Regions from separate parts of the Homo sapiens genome. Here all the other regions are reported to be linked to region 4. Evidence: microRNA targets listed by miRTarBase, many of them from high-throughput screens and not tested one by one. Region 4 holds a microRNA gene; each other region holds the end of a gene's coding sequence.
The links. Region 4 holds the annotated microRNA hsa-miR-6506-5p (ACUGGGAUGUCACUGAAUAUGGU, at 3,192-3,214, opposite strand). A microRNA usually pairs through its seed, bases 2 to 8, with sites in the 3' UTR of a target mRNA and lowers its output. Matches are read on the target gene's strand: a 7mer-m8 pairs with bases 2 to 8, a 7mer-A1 pairs with bases 2 to 7 and ends in A, and an 8mer does both.

Region 1: the mRNA of TENT5B is a reported target of hsa-miR-6506-5p. Seed matches in the 3' UTR shown: 7mer-m8 at 4,577-4,583.
Region 2: the mRNA of ATCAY is a reported target of hsa-miR-6506-5p. Seed matches in the 3' UTR shown: 8mer at 3,324-3,331, 7mer-m8 at 3,191-3,197, 7mer-m8 at 3,027-3,033, 7mer-m8 at 2,892-2,898 and 7mer-m8 at 2,112-2,118.
Region 3: miRTarBase lists VDAC2 as a target of hsa-miR-6506-5p. Seed matches in the 3' UTR shown: 8mer at 878-885.

Annotation. Positions count from the first base shown.
Region 1 is chr1:27,000,973-27,006,264 of GRCh38, forward strand. It overlaps TENT5B (terminal nucleotidyltransferase 5B), which reads right to left. Exons shown (of 2, transcript NM_052943.4): 2 at 4,048-5,292. The coding sequence ends at 4,972. Among named protein-coding and RNA genes, the nearest start is that of TENT5B, 9.2 kb to the right of the region's middle. RefSeq lists enhancers at 824-1,427, 1,145-1,304, 2,855-3,499, 4,788-5,292.
Region 2 is chr19:3,923,473-3,929,083 of GRCh38, reverse strand. It overlaps ATCAY (ATCAY kinesin light chain interacting caytaxin), which reads right to left. Exons shown (of 13, transcript NM_033064.5): 13 at 1,002-4,501. The coding sequence ends at 4,492. Among named protein-coding and RNA genes, the nearest start is that of NMRK2, 6.8 kb to the left of the region's middle.
Region 3 is chr10:75,230,529-75,234,528 of GRCh38, forward strand. It overlaps VDAC2 (voltage dependent anion channel 2), which reads left to right. Exons shown (of 10, transcript NM_001391963.1): 10 at 370-920. The coding sequence ends at 461. It overlaps COMTD1 (catechol-O-methyltransferase domain containing 1), which reads right to left. Exons shown (of 7, transcript NM_144589.4): 7 at 3,113-3,697. The coding sequence ends at 3,545. Among named protein-coding and RNA genes, the nearest start is that of COMTD1, 3.4 kb to the right of the region's middle. RefSeq lists an enhancer at 3,378-3,527 and a silencer at 3,658-3,837.
Region 4 is chr16:15,607,881-15,613,491 of GRCh38, forward strand. MIR6506 (microRNA 6506) reads right to left here and starts at 3,215; the gene lies at 3,150-3,215. It overlaps MARF1 (meiosis regulator and mRNA stability factor 1), which reads right to left. Exons shown (of 27, transcript NM_014647.4): 17 at 4,677-4,897; 18 at 3,712-3,854; 19 at 3,095-3,228; 20 at 1,643-1,845; 21 at 411-638. RefSeq lists an enhancer at 2,592-2,886.

The DNA of each region.
Region 1 (5,292 bases), not on the chromosome of region 4:
GTGGGGGTTGTGTGACTAGTGTGACTGTGCTGGCGACCATATGGACCTGTTTTGTCAGTCGGTGTCTAAGCAGGAGATGGCACACTCAAACTGGGAAGTGTTTTAAACATAGGCTATTCTGGCCTGGCATGGTGGATCACACCTGTAATCCCAGCACTTTGGGAGGCTGAGGCAGGAGGGTTGCTTGAGCTCAGGAGTTCGAGACCAGCCTGGGAGATCCCTGCTCTATAAAAATGAAAAAATTAGCCAGGTGGGGTGGCACATGCCTGTGGTACCAGCTACTTAGGAGGCTGAGGTGGGAGGATTGCTTGAGCCCAGGAGGTCAAGGCTGCACTGAGCTGTGATCCTACCACTGTGCGCTCCAGCCTGGGCAACAGAACAAGACCCTATCTCAAGAAATAAAACAGACTATTTCCAAAGGCGTGGGCTGGGCTTAAGAAACTAACAAGGGGCTGGGTTTGGTGGCTCACATTTGTAATCCCAGTACTTTGGGAGGCCGAGGCAGGCAGATCACCTGAGGTCAGGAGTTTGAGACCAGTGTGGCCAACATGGCGAAACCCCATCCTATTAAAAATACAAAAATTAGCCAGGCGTTGTTGTGTGCACCTGTAGTCCAAGCTCCTTGGGAGGCTGAGGCATGAGAGTGGCTTGAACCTGGGAGGCGGAGGTTGCAGTGAGCTGAGATCGCGTCACTGCATGCCAGCCTGGGTGAGTGCTCTCCCCCCTCCACCCAAAAAAAAAAATGTAATGGGATGGTTCAGCAATCTGGGGCCAGCAACAGTGAGAAGCCTTTGCAACTCCTGAGTCTGAGGGTGAGGAGAGGTCACTGTGTGGAGTGGGGCCCCTGACAAGAACCGTGACCTTTGGTTGAGAGATGTGGCCAACCATGGCAACCTGGTAGAGAGGGAACAAAGAGAATAAATATCTACTCCTCCCTTAAGTCTCCTTAAGACGCTGGGATGTCTCATTGGCAACCCAACAGGAAGCCGGGGAACAAGGGAGCCATTGATGCAGTCCACAGATGCCAGCCCCCAGGGAACAGAGCAGAAGTGTGGCGAGTGAAAGCGGAAGGGCAGCATATCATGTAACTGTCTGAGGCTATGCCTTGTTCCTCAAAGTCCACAGCAACGCTCCTTCCCCATCCGGAGCTCCCACAACCCTCGGGTCTGAAGGGGTGGGTGGACTGTTGCTTGGAGAGCACAGTAAGGTTGGAAGGTAGAGGACAGGGCTTTTCCCTCTCAGCCTTTGCATTGCTGGCTCTGAGTCCCAGTTCCTGATTCCTGCCTGTCCTGGTGTCTTAGGTAGCTGCAGGAACTGTCCACAGGAGGAACCATGTCAGCCACTGAGTCGGTGTTTTTCTCACACTCAGAAACGCTGCACCACTCCCAAACAAAACCACAGGCGTGCTGCTGCCATCATGAGCCCTGGACAGTCATCACAAGCCATAATTACTGTCACATGTATATCAAGAAAACATACATCTTGGCCAGGTGTGGTGGCTCACGCCTGTAATCCCAGCACTTTGGGAGGCCGAGGTGGGCAGATCACGAGGTCAAGAGTTCGAGACCAGCCTGACCAACATGGTGAAACCCCGTCTCTACTAAAAATACAAAAATTAGCTGGGCATGGTGGTGGGTGCCTGTAATCCCAGCTACTCAGGAGGCTGAGGCAGGAGAATCGCTTGAACACGGGAGGCAGAGGTTACAGTGAGCTGAGATCGCACCGCTGCACTCCAGCCTGGGCGACAGAGCGAGACTCCGTCTCAGAAAAAGAAAAAAAAAATGTACATCTTGCCACACTGCTACACTGTGCCATAGTCACATATAAAATGACAAATGTCACAGTAATGTCAAATTATGCCTTGTCACATACGTACAGGAGACAACTGTCACAATCATGTGAAATCACAGTGCAGGAGCAGGATGGAACAGAGGTTAACAGCAATGGCTCTGGATCCAGACAAACCTCTTTGACCTCTCTGGTCTCAGTTTCTGTCTGCCAAATGGAAATGCTTTCTTTCCCCTTGTGGAGTTGTTGCAAGGATGATTTGGGAGATCATGATTGGGAAGACCTCAGCATAGTGCCTGCTGGAGTGAAGCCCACCAGGAATGGTGGCTGCTACTGTGAATAACTGTCTCACACGCCCCCACTGCCTCAGGCCCATGCGTGTGTGCAGTACCAGCACCTGGACGAGGCCTGCCAGACACCCTCAGGTACATGTGCCACAGTGCATGCACATTCACAGGCAAGCTCTCTGCCTGGAATGCTCTTTCTCTAAACATCTTCATGCCCACCTCCCACCACCTTTATGTCTTTGTTCAATCAAATATCACCTTTCAATGAGTTGCACCTGACTTTTTTTTTTTTTTTTTTTTGAGATGGAGTCTCGCTCTGTTGTCCAGGCTGGAGTGCAGTGGTATGATCTCAGCTCACTGCAACCTCTGCCTCCCAGGTTCAAGCGATTCTCCTGCCTCAGCCTCCCGACCAGCTGGAATTACAGGCACACGCCACCATACCCAGCTAATTTTTGTATTTTTAGTAGAGATGGGGTTTCACCATGTTGGCCAGGTTGATTTTGAACTACTGACCTCAAGTGATCTGCCCACCTCAGCCTCCCAAAGTGCTGGGATTACAGGCATGAGCCACTGCGCCAGGCTCCTGACTTATTTTTCAATTTTCAAAACCCAGCATTTCCAGTCCCTTACCCTGCTATATTTTTACATATCACTGATCATCTAAGACCATACGGTTCGGTTTATTTTCTATCTACTCCGTTAGAATGTAGTCTTCACAAGGACAGGGATTTTGTCTTTTGTTTGCTGATGTATTCCCAGCACCCAGAACGGTGTCTGGCACATGGTGGCTGAATGCAGTGTATACACACATGTACCAAATGGGTTTCTCGCTTTTTCAGCCCTTAACTAAACAAGCACATCCAGGTGAACTCCACCCCCCAGCCCAAAAAGGTAAGTCTGTTGTGTTTACACTGTGAGCCTCTCATGCCAAGGCTGAAATAGCCAACTCAGGAGGTGAGACAAACTTAGTCCTTCCCATGACCATAGTTGGGTGGTCACAGCTGGGATGGGGGTGGGAGCTGGTTTTAGTCACCAAGCAAAGAAAGCCTTTCTGTTCACTTTCCAGCCATTTTGAGCCCAGCAGCACAAGGGACTCAGAGCAGGTGAGGTGGCTGGACTCACCCTGGTGACCTGGGGCCTCCTCTGCAGCATTGTTTTTTCCACCCTGGCCAGAACCATCAAAGTCACCACTTCAGAGGCCCCTAATGAGGCTGAATATGTTAAGGGCTTTGCAATCCCTGGATCAAAGAGTCTGGGCAAACAGCAGGCAGCGTCCAGGCCCATGACTGACTGGCTGATACTCTGAGGGCGCAGCATGCTAGGAACTTGCGGCTGACACTCCTAGACAGCCTGGCATGGCCCCATGTGGGTTTGGGAAGGGGAGACCCTCCCCATCCAGGGGATCTGATTAGAGCGAGCCAGAGCACACCCATCAGTGCTCGGGGCAAGGGAAGGAGCTGGAGGACTGAGGGAGCCTCTCCCAAATAGAGGCCCTACCTGGGCTCAGGCTTAGGGGGAACCCTACAAGTTCCCCAGTCTCAGCCACCTTTACTGGAGGGGCCTCCAGTCCAGATTCACCCAGCCTGTTCTCTAGCTGCTCCCTTGGAAGAGACGGGGTAGACAGAGCTGGGAACAAGTACCCCTGAGCACCAGAGTCTGAGTCTAGGCCCAGAGCTATTTGGATTCCAGGTAGAAAACATAAAAATATTTACTCCTTAACAAGAGCCCTAGACCTGCTAAGGCAACGTGCAGGTCACACATGTAGACAGCAGCTCTTAATATACAGCTGGTCAGGCTGCGGCTGGGGTTGGGAGAAGGAGGGGCAGTCCCCCAGCCATAGCCCAGGCTTCAAACCCCGCCCCCGCAAATGCTCCCTTCCACAGTACAAGCCAGACTCCAACTGGGGGAGGCAGCTGCAACCCCCACTGCTACGGAAGGTCCTTCTTTCCCCAGAGGAAGCATGGCACTAAGGTTCAGTGTAGACCGTCTTTATTGGCAGGTGTTAAGAGTGCAAAATATCAACAAACCCAGGGGAATACGCAAGGGGGTGGGAGTATGGCTCCCCTACCCCATGTGAGAGCCCTGTAACCAAGCCAGTGGGGTGGGAACGTTGACTTGACTGTGGCAAATTCAGGCTCAGCACCTTCCAAAGAACAAGCTCCCAGGCAGGAGGGCTCCTTGCAACACAAGGGGGAAAGGAGTGGCACCCTGGAAGGGGCCTGGGCTGCGACCCACCCTGGGCTGCTTGGCTCCTGTATACTGCCCACCTCAACCCCTCAAGAGGAAGGCTTCACAGCTGGGGGTATGTAGTTCAGAGAACCGGGCTAAACCCAGCCCTCCCCAAACCCAGGTATCTGCCTCGGGCCTCAGTTTCCCTCCTCCCAGTGATTACCCAAGTTGGCCCATCAGGCCCTGTAGTGGCCCAGCCTGATCCAAAGTGACAAGTCCCTGTAACATACCATGTATCAGTCAGTGTGTGGGCTGCAGGCCCTCCAAAGCTGCTGGGATCACCACAGGCTGGCCTTAGTCAAAAAGACCCTCTTAGACCATGGGAATCAATCCAAGGTGCTGGGCATTAAGGCTACCACCCCAAACTTGCTTTGTCTCCTGAAGGAAATTGACTTCCAAGACAAATGGCGCCTGCACCCCACCGGCATGCTGGTCCAAAAGTGTGATGCAATAACCAAAGGGTCCTCCTGCTGAGAGCCCCAGGCTGGCATTAAGCCCACAGGGGCCTCGTGCTCGGGAAAGTCTGGTCTGTTCAATCAAAGGCCCAACCCTGCAGTGCTGGGCCTCCTGGCACATTCTGCGCCTCTGGTCATGTCCTCCACACACTCTTGGAGGCCCCACCCCACCCCGTGAGGCCCAGTCCCTTCCCTTCTGGCCAGGGTCTGAGTCAGTTACAAGGCAGCCAGGTGGGATAGGCGTGAGCCAGGAGAGGTTGCACGGGGGTCACGTAGTAATTGACAGTGGCTGGCACAACCCCGTCAGTGCCTGGAGGGCGCCAGGCCAGGGCGGCAGTGGCAGCTGGGCCCTGCTCAGCCAGTGCCTGCAGCGCCAGTGCGGCAATGAGGTCCAGCGTCTGGCGGCGCTCGTGGTTCATGAGGCACACGGTGCTCTCGTTGACCACCCGGTGCAGTGTCACCAGGCAGGCGTAACGGCGGGCTGCATCTGCCCCACCGAAGTGGGCCTCCAGGTAGCGCTCTAGGGTGCGCCG
Region 2 (5,611 bases), not on the chromosome of region 4:
TTAGTAGAGACGGGGTTTCACCGTGTTAACCAGGATGGTCTCGATCTTCTGACCTCGTGATCTGCCCGCCTCGGACTCCCAAAGTGCTGGGATTACAGGCGTGAGCCACCGCGCCCGGCCTTCTTTTCTGTTTTTTTTTGGTGGGGGGTTCGGAGTCTCTTTTGCCCAGGCTGGAGTGAAGTGGCGCCATCTCGGCTCAGTGCAACCTACGCCCCCTGGGTTCAAGTAATTCTCCTGGCTCAGCCTCCCGAGTAGCTGGGATTACAGGCGCGCACCACCACGCCTGGCTAATTTTAGTATTTTTAGTAGAGACGGGGTTTCACCACGTTGGCCAGGCTGGCCTCAAACTCCTGACCTCAAGTGATTCACCTGCCTCGGCCTTCCAAAGTGTTGGGATTACAGGCGTGAGCCACCGTGCCTGGCCGTGAATGGGGTTTTCAAGAAACCTCTCAGGGTAATCAGAGACCCCGTGCAGTAGGATAAAGGAGGGGGCTGTCACCTCCAAACTGGGAGCGGCTCCCCAGGATCCCAGCACCAGCTCCACCCTCTTTGTCCCCTCCATCCACCCACGAAGACCCCACCTTTTCCCCTAAAGGGCACCTGCCGGCATAAACACAACTGGAGCACAGTAGCATGACTTTGGGACCTGCTGGTGACAGAGACATCAAGGTGGGTATGACATGGCCACCGCACAGTGTCCCCACTGGGTGGATGGAGAGAACTGGCAGGCGTGATCGTGGCTCACTGCAGCCTCTGCCTCCCGGGTTCAAGTGATTCTCCTGCCTCAGCCTCCTGAGTAGCTGGGATTACAGGCGTGTGCCACCACGCCCGGCTAATTTTTGTATTTTTAGTAGAGACGGGGTTTCACCATGTTGGCCAGGTTGGTCTGGAACTCCTGACCTCAGGTGATCCTCCCGCCTCCGCATCCCAAAGTGCTGGGATGGCAGGGGTGAGCCACTGGGCCCTGCCTGTTACTAGTACTCAAAAGGAACAAACCTCCCTTCTCAGTGATAGTTTCTTTATTCCACATAAAAGTCCCCCCAAAGCTCATGGAGACGACGTCTTAACATCACGACCGTCGTCAATCGTAGTGATCATTTCTGTTCTGAAAAACCGCAAAACTCATCGTTGGAAGGATGGGCTGCTGACCAGGACTTTGGGGGAGGGTTTATGACGCATCCCATGTGTCACCAGAGGGAAACCCAACATCCTTTTACGAGGAGGGGTCGGGGTCCATTGCATTTTGGCCAAACCACACCCCCCACCCTGATACAAATCCATCTCAAAGCCCATCTGTGGACGGTGCAGGTCGTGGCCCAGCTGGGAACGGTGGCCCCGGCTGTTTGACCTCGGCATGCCTGCCGACAGGTGGCCTCGCCGGGGGCCTCTTTTGCTCTGGAGGGTCCGCTGGGGCTGAGTTGGGGTCTTCAGTTTCGCCTGCCTGTTGTCTGTGACTGCTGGTGATCCAAAGGGGCGTGGGTGGGCCACGGCATAACGGGCGGACCCCCTGGAGTTTCTGGTGGGGGCAGAATGTTTAGCCGGCAGGCACCTTCTGGGTCAGGTAGGGCCTCACTTGTCACTTGATTGCTGCTGTAGACACTCAATTATTAGGTGTCCGATTGGGTGGAATGAGTTCTTTCCTGTCCCCGTCTCCTGTCTGTGACTTGGAAGCGGCCCCAGTCTTCCATGACGGTTAAGGCCCAGCAGTTCTTGTCACTGTTGGGTTAGAACGATTCATGCTGGAGCTGCGTGCCTTTGGTCACCTGGGACAAATCGTGGCAGCTGGGCCTGGCTGGCATCTATCTGCTGGAGCCTGTCTCCTCCGGGCAGTCTGATAATCAGGCTTCTGTCATTTTTTTTCTTTTGAGTCAGTCTTGCTCTGTCTCCCAGGCTGGAGTGCAGTGGTGCAATCTCGGCTGACTGCAATCTCTGCCTCCTGGGTTCCAGCTATTCTTCTACCTCAGCCTCCTGAGTAGCTGGGACTACAGGTGCGCGCCACCACACCCAGCTAATTTTTGTATTTTTAGTAGAGATGGGGTTTCACCATGTTGGCCAGCCTGGTCTCGAACTCCTGACCTCAGGTGATCCACCTGTCTCGGTCTCCCAAAGTGCTGGGATTATAGGCGTGAGCCACCGTACCCAGCCACTTTTGTCATCTTGTGTTGGCTTTGGCAGCGACACCATTCACTGGGGTGGGAATTCGGGACAGGGTCTTGCCCCTGTGCCCGGGATTTGACATTTGGGAAACAAATGTTAAAACCCTACCATGTCCCTAAATGTCCCAGCCTCCCCAGGGCAATGCTGAGACCCAGAGGTGTCCCGTCACAGCCGGTGGCTCCACAGGAACCTGCAGGCATAAGCCTGCTCAGAAACCCCGTCTTCCTCATGGCAGGAGCTGCTGGCTTTTGGGGATGGGACTCGCGCAGGACCCTGTCCCACAGGGCAAATCTTTCTGTATCACTGCCCCTCAGCACTAAATACCACCAGTTCCCTGCCATCATCGTTGGAATAACCCCAAATGCAATTCCTTGCTGTCTCAGGTCAAGATGCACTGGACGCTTTCACTGAGGCTCAGTTAATTGTGGGTCTGGTTGGCCCAGCCTGGATAGCACTTGCTGAGAGGTCAACCACAGAGCTAGGAAGAAGGGCCTGGAGAATGTGCCCGCCCTACTCACCGTCTGCTCAGACTGATAGACATGAAGACATTTAGGATTAGAGGGAAACTCGTGAGCAACTCTCTGCAAACACTGTCCATTCTTTTCTTTTCTTTTTATTTTGAGACGGAGTTTTGCTCTTGTTGCCCAGGCTGGAGTGCAGTGGCATGATCTTGGATCACTGCAACCTCTGCCTCCTGGGTTCAAGCAGTTCTCCTGCCTCAGCCTCCCGAGTAGCTGGGATTACAGGCATGCACCACCATGCCCGGCTAATTTTTGTATTTTTATTAGAGACGGGGTTTCGCCATGTTCACCAGGCTGGTCTTGAACTCCTGACCTCAGGTGATCCACCCACCTCAGCCTCCCAGAGTGCTGGGATTACAGGCATGAGCCACTGTGCCCTGATTATTTTTTATTTTTTTTGAGACAGAGTCTTGCTCTGTCGCCCAGGCTGGAATGCAGTGGCACGATCTTGGCTCACTGTAACCTCTGCCTCTCAGGTTTAAGTGATTCTCATGCCTCAGCCTCCCAAGTAGCTGGGATTACAGGCACCTGCCACCACGCCTGGCTAATTTTTGTATTTTTAGTAGAGATGAGGTTTCACCATGTTGGCCAGGCTGTTCTCAAACTCCTCACCTCAGGTGATCCGCCTGCCTCGGCCTCCCAAAGTCTGGGATTACAGGCGTGAGCCATCGTGCCTGGCCCAGCCTTTTCTTAAATACTTCCAGAGACAGGGAGCTCAGTGCTTCTAGAGTCCATCTGACCAGTGATCCGCATTTGGACCACATTAGAAAAGTCTGTCTTCTTTTTCCTAGGGAAATTTGCCTCCCGAACAAGAACCCGCTGGTCCAAGCTTTGAATGCAGGTGGCTGCGGCCAGCGCACTGGATTTATCTTCCCGAATGACTTCTGAAACACTCAAACGCCCGATACCCTGTATCTTCCTCTTGCTAGGTCTGCCTATTTCAGAGCCAGTTTCTGAGCCTCTGCTGTTCCAACCCGGAACAGCGTTGGCGTGTCCCAGCCTGACGCTGGGTTGGGGGAGCAGTGAGGTCCACATATCTCATTCCTTGGTGGGAGGTATTGACGGGGTTTGCCCGGTGGCTTGACATCTGAGTTAAAGGGGCTTGAGAATGTTCTAGATTACTGGGGTGTCATTTTGCAATCGGAGGACAAGGATGGTTGGCAGCGGCTCTTCTTGTGCAATGGGCTCTGATCCTCTCAAAGGAGCTGGGTGTCATTATGAGCGAGAAGGGGGCGGGTCAAATGAAAAACCATGGGTGTGAAATTTGGACATAAGGTCGGAGGTCAGGAGCTACCCCAGGACGTGGCCCTCATAGGGGGGTTGAGCTTCTAGGTCTGAGGCCGCATTCTGGAGGGAAAGGCACAGGAAAGGACGCAGACCCAGCCGGGGTGGCGGTGGGTGTCTGTGGCTCCAACCTGGAGCGGGTGACAAGCAAGAGAAGGGTCTTGAATCTTGTATCCAGCTCTGACCACAGAGGCTGCGAGCAGGAGCGGAGGCCACCGACGCCACGCGGGCCACCCCCTGCGCTTCTTGCCTTCCTCGGCTGAGAGTTCGTGAGTGTGGAAGGGTGAGGGGCTCAGAGCTGGGCCCTTTTCTGGAACGCACAAATACTGCATCGTTAAAAAAAAAAAATACAATGTTTTCAAGCAGCTGAAAAGGATGCTGGGTTTCAGAGATGAACGGAGGGGCTGGCACCCTTGGAAGATTGGGACTCAGGATGAGGCAGGATGAGATCTGGGGCCAGTGGGCGTCTGACAGAGGTTTTCTGGCATCTGGAATCTTCTTCCATGTCCTTTGTTATGCTCACGTCGCCTCAGGACATGCTAGGGAGGGAAAGACACAGGCCAAGTTATTGCTGTTAATGTTAAAAGTGCAAAATGCGCTTCTACATGTATGTAATCCAAAACAATGATCCCACCCAGCGTGGGTGAACTCCCAGCAGCAAGAGTGGCACATGCCCTTCAGGGCCCGGCTCCTGCCACCCACTTTCTAAGTGTGGCTCTGAGGGCCTCCTTCCTGGTGCCTCAGCAGAACAGGCCCTGGAGACTGGCAACCTCAATCAGCCTGGAGGGAGGCTTCAACCCACCCCCCAACTAACCAACCATACAACCACCCACACATCTATCCATCCACCCATCCATCCATCCATCCATCCATCCATCCATCCATCCACACACTCACTCACCCATCCATTCACTCAATGGAGGGATCCATTCATCCCTCTGCCCACCCATCCAGCCACTCACTCATCCGTCCATCCACCCATCCACCCACCCACACATCCATCCATTCATCCATCCATCCCTCCACTCATCCATCTATTCAACCATCCATCCATCCATCCACCCACCTATCCATTGATCCATCTGCCCACCCATCCATCCACCCACTCATCCATCTGTCCATCCATCCATCCATCCATCCATCCATCCATCCACCCACCCACTCATCCATCTAGCCATCCATCCATGCATCCAACCAACCATACAACCACCCACACATCTAGCCATCCACCCATCCATGCACCCATCCATCCACCTATCTATCCATCCATCCATCCATCCATCCACCCACCCACCCATCCATTCATCCATCTGCCCACCCATCCAGTCACTCACTCATCCACCCACCCACCCACTCACCCATCCATCTACCCATCCATCCATCCACCCACCCATTCATCTACCCAACCATTCATCCAACCAACCATTCATCTACCATTTACCCATCCATATGCCTACCCATCCATCTCTCCATCAGTCCATCTTTCCATCCCTCCACCCATCCATTCATCCACTCATCCATCCACACAGTCAACCTTCACCCATCCATCCATCCATCCATTTATCCATCCATCCATCCACCTATCATCCATCTATCCTCCCATCCCTCCACTCATTCATTCATCTATCTATCCACCCATCATCCAAACA
Region 3 (4,000 bases), not on the chromosome of region 4:
TTCAGATTTACCCCCGTTCCCAAATGTGTCTTTATTGTAGGTTTTCCTTTCTAGGATCGAATTATGATTATGTCTTTAGTCTCTTTTCATCGGGATAGTATACTCAACATTATAGTATATTCTAGAACACTTTGAAGTTGTTATTAAAACATTTCTCTGTGACTTGGTGCCTTAGCTAGAATGGTAACCCAGTTCTTCTGGTGTCTCAGATACTTCCAAGCGCCCTCTGGTGGCCAGCACTAGTAGGTCAGCTGACAGGCTGAGGAAGTGACAGGCAGGCTCTGGGGATGACTGTGAAAGAAGGCCCAGACTGAGTGACGTGCCAGGTACATCACGGTTTTTTGTTTTTGTGTTTTTTTGTCTTAATAGGTGTGAAGCTTACACTCTCTGCTCTGGTAGATGGGAAGAGCATTAATGCTGGAGGCCACAAGGTTGGGCTCGCCCTGGAGTTGGAGGCTTAATCCAGCTGAAAGAAACCTTTGGGAATGGATATCAGAAGATTTGGCCTTAATATATTTCCATTGTGACCAGCAGCAGGCTTTTTTCCCCCAAGAAGATGATCAAAACAAAGGATGATCTCAACAAGAGCTGTATTTTAAGTATTTAGACAGTTCTTTGTTAGCTGGTTTCTAGTTGGTTATCTAGTTACCAATGCTGCAGTCCTGCAGTCACCTATACATTATTTAAATGTATTTAACTGTTAAATGCGCTACCCACCAATAATGAAATAGACCTTTATGAAAACTGTGCAATTGTGTGCATGTTTGTTTTTATGTTCCTTTAGAAAACATTGACTGTTACCATTGAATGAGATGGATCAGTGGATATTAAGATGAGGTTACAAATTTTGTTAAGTTCAGCCATTATTACTTTTGGTATCCCAGAACATGACAAATTATGAATAAAACAAGTATACATAATTAATGGCTCCAAGTATTTGCGGAGTTCCACGTTTGCCAGCTAGGATCAAATCCCCGTGGTAGCTAGCCAATACTTGATTTTTCCAGTGAGTATTTTGCTCTGTACCTAAATCTGTGCCACAGAATCTTCTGTGTCCCTAGATTCCACGAGCTTTTTAAGACTACAATAAGAGGATACATGCTTTTACACTTTTACATGCACAGTTTGTAAGTCTGTGCAGAATTGCCCTGCATCATTGAAAGGAAAAAGAGAAGGTGCTGAAAAGTTACACAAACACACCATACCCCTGTGAGCTACTGCTAGGAACATAAAGTAGGCCCTGGTTTGGTGAGATGGTGTTAAGCATACAGAAGAGGAGTAAGGTGTAGACAGTGAGGGTAACCTGAGGGACTGTGAGAGGTCATTACTCATTTCCTTCTAGGCAGACACACTGAAAGGTGGGTATAGGTAGGAGACCAGAGACAACCCCTTTAGGCTGCGTGGCATTGGCCTTCATCTGGGCATGAATGAGACATTAATAGGTGGTTCTGGCTGGAAAAGTAGGTAAGAGTACGTTTTCTGATGGGAGAAGATAATTGGATATGATTAAAGGTTGGAGAAGATTTGTTCAACAAATCTGTAATAGACCTGAAGAATGGTAGAACCTGAGTGATAAGAAATGGGTAAGAAAATGGAAGGACTTATCACCCAAGAAATGATACATGCTACAAACTTCCAGGTTGAGAAGAAGCTGGTGAGAGACCAGAGCTCAAGCAAGCTCTCCACACAGGAGGGTTGGGGGCATGAAGACCCCTCTGGTCCCACTATTCCTAGGGGACTGGCTTGAATGGCCCATGTGAATCATGGTTCTCTGGAAGGCCCTCTCCAGACAGACATGACTTAAGTGACAGAGGGTTAGAATTTGAGCCAGCTTGAGTCAGGTAAGAGGAGAAACATGAAAAGATGTCCATGCAGGCTAGGCCTGAAAGCAACTCCAGCAGTGTGAAGTAGACCCGCAGGCAACTAACCACTGCTGGTGGTCCTTCAAAGAGAAAAACCCTAGTCATGGGGACTGCTGCCCCTTAGCTAATGGGTGGCCCTTTATTGGGCAGTGGCTACAGTAATTTGGACTGAGGTGTGGCACGAGTGAGTTAACTGTTTTGTCAAGGATTTCCTTAGAGTAAATTGAACCTATTCACCCACATGCATCCTAATATGCTTTTATGAGTTAGAAAAGGGTAGGTTTCCAGCCGTGGTCTTGCGTAGTGTCCAAAATGCAAAGTTTGTCCCAGGAGCTGTGAGCTCGTGTGGCTTTTTTTTTTTTTTTTTTTTGAGACGGAGTCTCACTTCGTTGCTCAGGCTGGAGTGCAGTGGTGCGGTCTCGGCTCACTGCAACCTCCGTCTCCCGGGTTCAAGCAATTCTGCCTCAGCCTCCCGAGTAGCTGGGATTACAAGCGTGTATCACCACACCTGTCTAATTTCTGTATTTTTAGTAGCGACCGGATTTCACCATGTTGACCAGGCTGGTCTCGAACTCCTGACCTCAAATGATCCACCTGCCTCAGCCTCCCAAAGTGCTGGGATTACAGGCGTGAGCCACTGTGCCCAGCCTCATGTGGCTCTTTTAGCTCTGCTTCCATCAGTCTCCAGGGACACTTCCCACCACCGAGGCTTACCAGGTAGTGGCAAAAGCTGCTTGAATTCCAGGCTAATGCCACTTATGCCTGAGGCAGTGTCAGTGGAAAGAATTTGACCATCTGCCAGTGGAGATAAGATCTGTGAGGTTGGGGAGATTTAAATAAGCAGAGCACCTGGGTCGAAGGTGCTCCATGAGGCCTGGTTCCTTCTCCACCTCCCCTCATAGGCAGATGGTTCAGGAAAGCCTGAAGTTCTCTTCATCCTCTAGGGAGTGTAGTAACAACTGCTGTACCTATAGGCTTGTCTGCTTCACGCCTCCCTGGCCAGTGATCCCCCTCACTTAAGAATTTCAAGGAGACGGCAGGATACTCAAGTCAACCCCACGGCAGGATACTCAAGTCAACCCCGAGGTCCTCAGGTCCAGGCCAACTGGCCTGGCTCTTAGAGGTGATGTTCCCCCACCAGGGCCTCCACTGGAGAGGTGAGGCTGGGGAGCTGACTGTGCTGTGAAGACATGAGCAAGCCGCCAGCAGAACTGGCATCACCTACAAAAGCACACAAGTGACACCCGTGGTCCCCTGCAATCCTCTTTCATGTTGTCAGACACCAGACGTGGCTCTCTACCAGTCCCAGCTGCTCAGAACCAGAGCTTCGCCTGCCCTGAGGGAGAGATGTAGGAGGCAGACAAGCCCGAGGTGCTGGGGTCTCTGGCCATTACACGTGGCCAGGCCAGTTAAAACTTTATAACCTGCCTCCTGCCAGCTGGAGGTTCCTGCAGTTGGGCCACAGACCTGGCGCCAGGGAGGGGACGAATCTCAAGGCCCCTTTCACTGAAGGCAGGAGCTGTCTGTGCTGGGCCTTCCCTCCCTTCCCCATCCAGCGCCACACACGGAGGCTCAGGAGGTCGTGTGTCCCAGCCCCACTTTATTTTCGAATTTAAAACTCAGGGTCAATTCCTGGGGTTCCCAGGCAACCCTCCCTCGAGCCCACTCACTAGGGGCCAGCCCTAGATCTTGAAGGCCAAGGTGAGTCCATCGCCCAGGGGCAGGAGGCTGATGTAGACCCTGACGTCCCGCCGGATGCGTTCGTTTAGGTTTCGCACACACTCGGCCGCCACGTCCCCTTTCGGAGGTTGCAGCACCTTCCCGCGCCACAGGACCTGCGGGAGGGCGGGGCCAACCGGGCCGTGGGAGGCGGGGCTTCGGAGGGAGGTGCTCGGGCGGAAGGCGGGGGACTGGGAGGGAGGTGCCCGGGCGGGAGGCGGGGTCTTGGAGGGAGGTGCCCAGACGGAAGGCGGGGTCTCGGAGGGAGGTGTCTGGGCGGGAGGCGGGGCCTCGGAGGGAGGTGCCCGGGCAGGAGGTGACCAGAGCTGGAGACAGAACCAAAGCGGAGGAAAGCCTGGGTACCGGGGCCGGAGCCCCGGAGGGGGTGTAGCCTACGTGACTGGACTGGGTGGGGCTTT
Region 4 (5,611 bases):
GGTGAGAATGTGGAGGGAGAGGACACTGTGTGATTACGGGCTCCCAAGAACGTCACAGGCAAAACTCACACTGGAAGGAGTCAAGCTCAGGCCAGCAGTGCTGAGGCAGCTGCACCTCATGACCGAACCCTGGGGTGAAGAGTGACCTCATCAGTTCACAAAGGCATTGCTTTGGCAAGGCCATTCAGAAACACACAAGAGGAAGACCAAAACTCTCAACTTCCAAACCAAGGCTTCTATTACCTAATAAGCACTAATGACACAAAACGAGTCATAATGCTGTGACAGTTAAGTAGTTCAAGGTGTAAATAAAGAAACGCTACAGCACACGCAAACGTCCTAATGAGAATTAGGTCACTGTGAGTTTTATCCCATGAGGGAAAAAAAAAAAAAAAAAAAAAAACATTTACCTTCACGACATGGCAGAGTTTCTGAGTTAAAGCCGAAATGGAACTGACATCATAGTCTTGGAGACGAAATGTATAACCAAAAGTTTTAGCATATTCTGTAAGGAGATCTGTCATCATAAGGCAGTTATCTTTTTGGGACCGAAGGAGTTTAACAAACTGGGCAGCTAGAGCTTTGAACCGCTCCACCTCTGTCAGAGTAAGGATCTTTTCTTCTCCACATTCCAATACCTTTGAAAACACACGGGGGGAGGAAAGGGAAAATAAACAAATCACGGGTGTTTACAGAATAGCAAAAAAAGTATGCAGCTAGTAATGAAAAAACAAGTCAGCGTTACTGAATGGGTATAAAGTTTCAGTTGTGTAAGATGAAAAAGTTCAGAAGATCGGTTGCATAACAATGTGAATGTGCTGACCACTACTGGACAGGAGATATAAAGATAGTTACGAAGGTAAGTTCTATGTTATGTGTATTGTGCCACAATAAAACAATTTTTAAAAAGCACTTCAGTAGTAAAAAAAGAAAATAAAATCAACAACAGAAATTTGGTTTAACTTAGCAACAGCGAACAGCTTAGCACTGATGTTACCTCATGTACTCAGACCTACCTTCAACACGAAGGATTTTAAAAGTATAAAAGTAATGAACAAATATTCAGTGTAAGAAATCAGCAGGTGTGGTGGCTCACGCCTGTAATCCCAGCACTCTGGGAGGCTGAGACAGGCGGATCAACTGAGGTCAGGAGCTCAAGACCAGCCTGGCCAACGTGGTGAAACACCATCTCTACTAAAAATAGAAAAATTAGCTGGGCATGGTGGCGGGCACCTGTAATCCCCAGCTACTCGGGAGGTTGAGGCAAGTGAACTGCTTGAACCCGCAGGCGGAGGTTGCAGTGAGCCAAGATTGCGCCATTGCACTCCAGCCTGGGCGACAAGAAAGAAACTCCGTCTCAAAAAACAAAAACAAACAAACAAAAAAAAGAAAACCTACTGAATCTTTTTTTCAATAATTACCCCCAAAACAAGTTTGAATAATCCTTTATTGAAGGAAAAAGCCATATTTATCTAAAAATACTAATGAGTCAGGAATATGGCTTCTCTGACTGGAATAGCTTAGATTTTCATCCTCTTTCGTAACTCCCTACTTCCCAGAAAAACAGGTCTGGAACGTGAAAAAGTATTTCCTATACGTTGTTCAGAAAAATACTTTATAAAATTAGAATTTCTTCACTCACTTGTAAAGTATCAGGTATGGCTTCAAAAAGTTCAAGTAGTTTGGTAAACCCATAGTACGCAAGTTTGCACTGCCGGCCAAAGTGGTGATGGTAAGAAGGGATAAATTTATTAAAGGGCATCCGGAAATGGGGTTGGTGACGCAGCAAATCAACGACATCCTTGGAGAACTGTTTTGTCCTTTCTATTTCATCCTGAGTGCGTTCTTTTAAAAAAACCAAAAAACATAAAATCACAGTTTTTTTCTACCCATTTGTGTTCAACATCCACACTAGAGTAAATCCTTTTGGGAATTTATAAACGATATCATCCTTGCCTTCCAAACACACACAACCTAAAACAAACACATATACTCTTCCCTCTTTGCAAGTGGTTCTCAAACATGTTCCAGGGCAGAACACCAGGAAGTTATGATATTATTATATTATGAAATTCATATATATTCATCTTATAAGCTAGAAACAATGTCATCTTATAAGCTAGAAACAATTTTCTAGCCCCTGCCCCATATCTATTAACATGACACACACCCAGGTCCCTGTACTTAAGCAAGTACTCTAGAAATTATTCCCATGAAATCACGCTTCTGAATATCCCCACTTTTTTTGTTTATTCATCTGATCTTCAGTTAAAACTTGCTAGCAGAAGAGAGAATCAGGCTTCAAAAGTTGAACAAAAATAAACAGGAGGGAAAGCTTAAGCTGAGATTGTTTCTATTAATTTTTAAGTGAGAATGGGCCCTGGAATTCTATGATTTCATGGACATCAATGTTCTGCAGGAGCACCGTTTAAGAACCAGATAATAGAAGGAGGATACGACCATACAGTCACCCCTTGGTGTTCTCAAGGGATCGGGTCCAGGACCCTGCCTGGATACCAAAATCCGCACCTACTCAAGTCTTGCGGTCTGCCCCGCGGAAACTGCAGACACGAAAAATTGGCCCCCAGTATCCATGAGTTTCGCATCCCTCAAATACTGTACTTTCTACCCGTAACTGGACCTGTGCAGTTCTGACTTCAACTATTAAAATTTGAAAGGCAAAAGAAAAAAAAACATTCGAGTTGTCTTCCCTTCTCAAGTGTGCACAGTAAATAAAGTAGCTCAGAGTTCAACAGAAGAGCAAAGCCAACAGGCACGGTGACAGATTCTCAACTGGATGACTAAGGCTCATGTAGCCACAGCCAGGCTGCAGAAGGCATTTGAGCAAAGTGCTGATGATGCCCCTTTTTCCCCTTAGAGTCAATTCTAAAAAGCCAGCCTGCTTTTGTTCTTGAGAACAGCTTCACCTACTTTGAAGAACACAGAATCCAAAGAGCAGCAGTTTTCACACTGTGCTTTCTGTGGAATCTTCAGGAAGCACGGACAGGGAGGGAAAACCACATCTTCCATGCCACACTATGTTAAAATAACAGGAGATAGACAATATCCTTCCAGCAAATGTTAAGTCACATACCTCTTTTGGGGATACAAATCACCATTTCATTATCTTGTTGGGACAAGCAGATGGTTGTGTCTGGAATCTCTGATACGATGTCAATCAACTCACAAACACCATATTCAGTGACATCCCAGTCCTTTGAGAAACACCTAGGTTTTAACAACGGAAGTGGATACGGAATGAGTAGTATCATCGGTAGAAGAACTACAAGTTTTCCGGCCGGGCGCTGGGGCTCACGCCTGTAATCCCAGCACTTTGGGAGGCCGAGGTGGACGGATCACGAGGTCAAGAGATCGCGACCATCCTGGCTAACATGGTGAAACCCCGTCTCTACTAAAAAATAGAAAAAATAAGCCGGGTGTGGTGGCGGGCGCCTGTAGTCCCAGCTACTCTGGAGGCTGAGGCAGGACAACGGCATAAACCCGGGAGGCGGAGCTTGCAGTGAGCCAAGATCGTGCCACTGGGCGACAGAGCGAGACTCCGTCTCAAAAAAAAAAAAAAAAAAACAAAAAACTACTACAAGTTTTCCAAAAGAATGCTTAATAGAAATACTAGATAACTATTTAGAGTTTGGCAGAAGATAAAATGTCCTAAAATATTTACTTTCATTTCTGTTCTTTTCATCAACTCACCAGTGATAAGCCTGTGAGAATTCTCTCACAATGACCTGTTTGCTGGCCTGGGATTTGAGAAGTTTTAGTAAATCCTGAGTAAAGCGCTTCACCTGGGCCCTGTGGGTAAGGGTCAGCAGACGTTTGGAGCCCATTCCAAGAATCTGCAAAGCAAATAGTTTATTTATACACATAAGACCTCAGCAGACAGCGACTTCCTTGCTGCTGGCTCACCCTCTCGTTACTAGCCTCAGAGCATGACTCCCTTTATGTAGAATGTGTGCAATTTGAAACACATGTCGATCAACAAAATGTAGTTGGTCAAAAGGAACAAATGTCCAAGGCCTTCTGAAACTCTTATCGTTTTTGGCCTGGCACACCTTCTCCCAAACAGTCGTTGAGTATAAAAATGAAAAGTGTAATCTTTTGAAAAGAAAAGTCGTGAGTACAGAAATGAAAACTGTATTGGTTGTCCAGACAAATTGGTCTACAAGTTTTTCAAGCCGTTTTTAGTGAGTGGGAAGCTGTTATAACACTGTGAGTTAACTGGTAAAAGTCTTCATAGGATCCAGTGCTACACTCTAGCCCAGTAACTTGTCTCCAACTAGTTAAATTTAGAAGAAAGGTTAAGCCCTTGACTCTCACATAGGCACCAACATACAAGTATGTGGCTATTCATGGGAGCTTCCTTGTAATCATGAACAGTTCTGGAGAAAGCTGTGCTGGGATGAAGAAGGTCTATAGAGCTTAGAGGGAAAATACTCCTCAGTCCTCCAAGGAGTTCCTCTAAAACTGGAAACTAGCAGCGTTCTGAAAAATTGAGAAGCCGCCTGTGTGTGTTATTCCTGCCCTCTGAAGAAAGTTTTTAGTGGATGTTCTGCCCAGAACTGACTTCTTAGGAATTAAACTGTTTCTTTGATGGAGGCAGCCAAAGCCATGGAGGAACATTCCTGCCTGTAAACAAGTAATCCCGTGACACGCCTTACCTGCAATACATGAGGCACTGCTTCTAATAACTCAATCAGCTTGGAGTATCCGTAGTCTGACACTCGGCACTGCTTTGCAAAATGATGGTGATAGGATGGGATGAAATGACTGATGGGTATGACACAAGATGGCTGGCTTTTCAGCAAGTCAATCACTTCTCTACTGAACTGGATCAGCTGGGGGTTACCTACAGGACTCTTCGAACGCAGAAGCCAAGGGTCTAGAAGAAAAAGAACGTGTATAAGACAGAAAGCACAGATTTCACCAGCTGAAAGAAGGGAAAATGGCCCTGCAGTCCCTGGCTTGAGTTCGATCATGGGGAAGCAAACAAAACCAAATACAGTAGCTGCTTTACGTCTCAGTTTCTATATTCAGGTCTCATAGTCCAATAACTAGCTAACTAACTTATTCACGGGCTGTCAAATGCTGTCCCACTAATCCTCAAAGTTAAGCGGCCAAGGTAAAGCAGAGTCTACTATAGTGTTATTTATAGCAGAAGTCAAAGTACACAAGAAGCTCCCAGTTTAGAAACTAGTTATATTTCCAAGATCCTTCTGAAACTTGGTCATGTGGAACGTACCTTTCCACAAAGTTATAAATGGTCATCAGGTAGGTGGCCCAGAAGAGCAAAATTAATCCATAGTGGAGCTGAAAACGTTACCCAGAAAACCACAGAAAGTGATAATGTTGTAAGATTAGCATGACATAAAAGGGTGTAAGGAACAGGTTTTTGCACCATCTTGACTGCTTATACCTATTAAAAAGGTATAAGTAATCAAACGGAAATCTTTATAGAAAGGTGGAGAGGCTTGCTGGTCGCGGCGGCTCATGCCTGTAATCCCAGCACTTTGGGAGGCTGAGGCGGGCGGATCACGAGGTCAGGAGATCGAGACCATCCTGGCTAACAAGGTGAAACCCCGTCTCTACTAAAAAT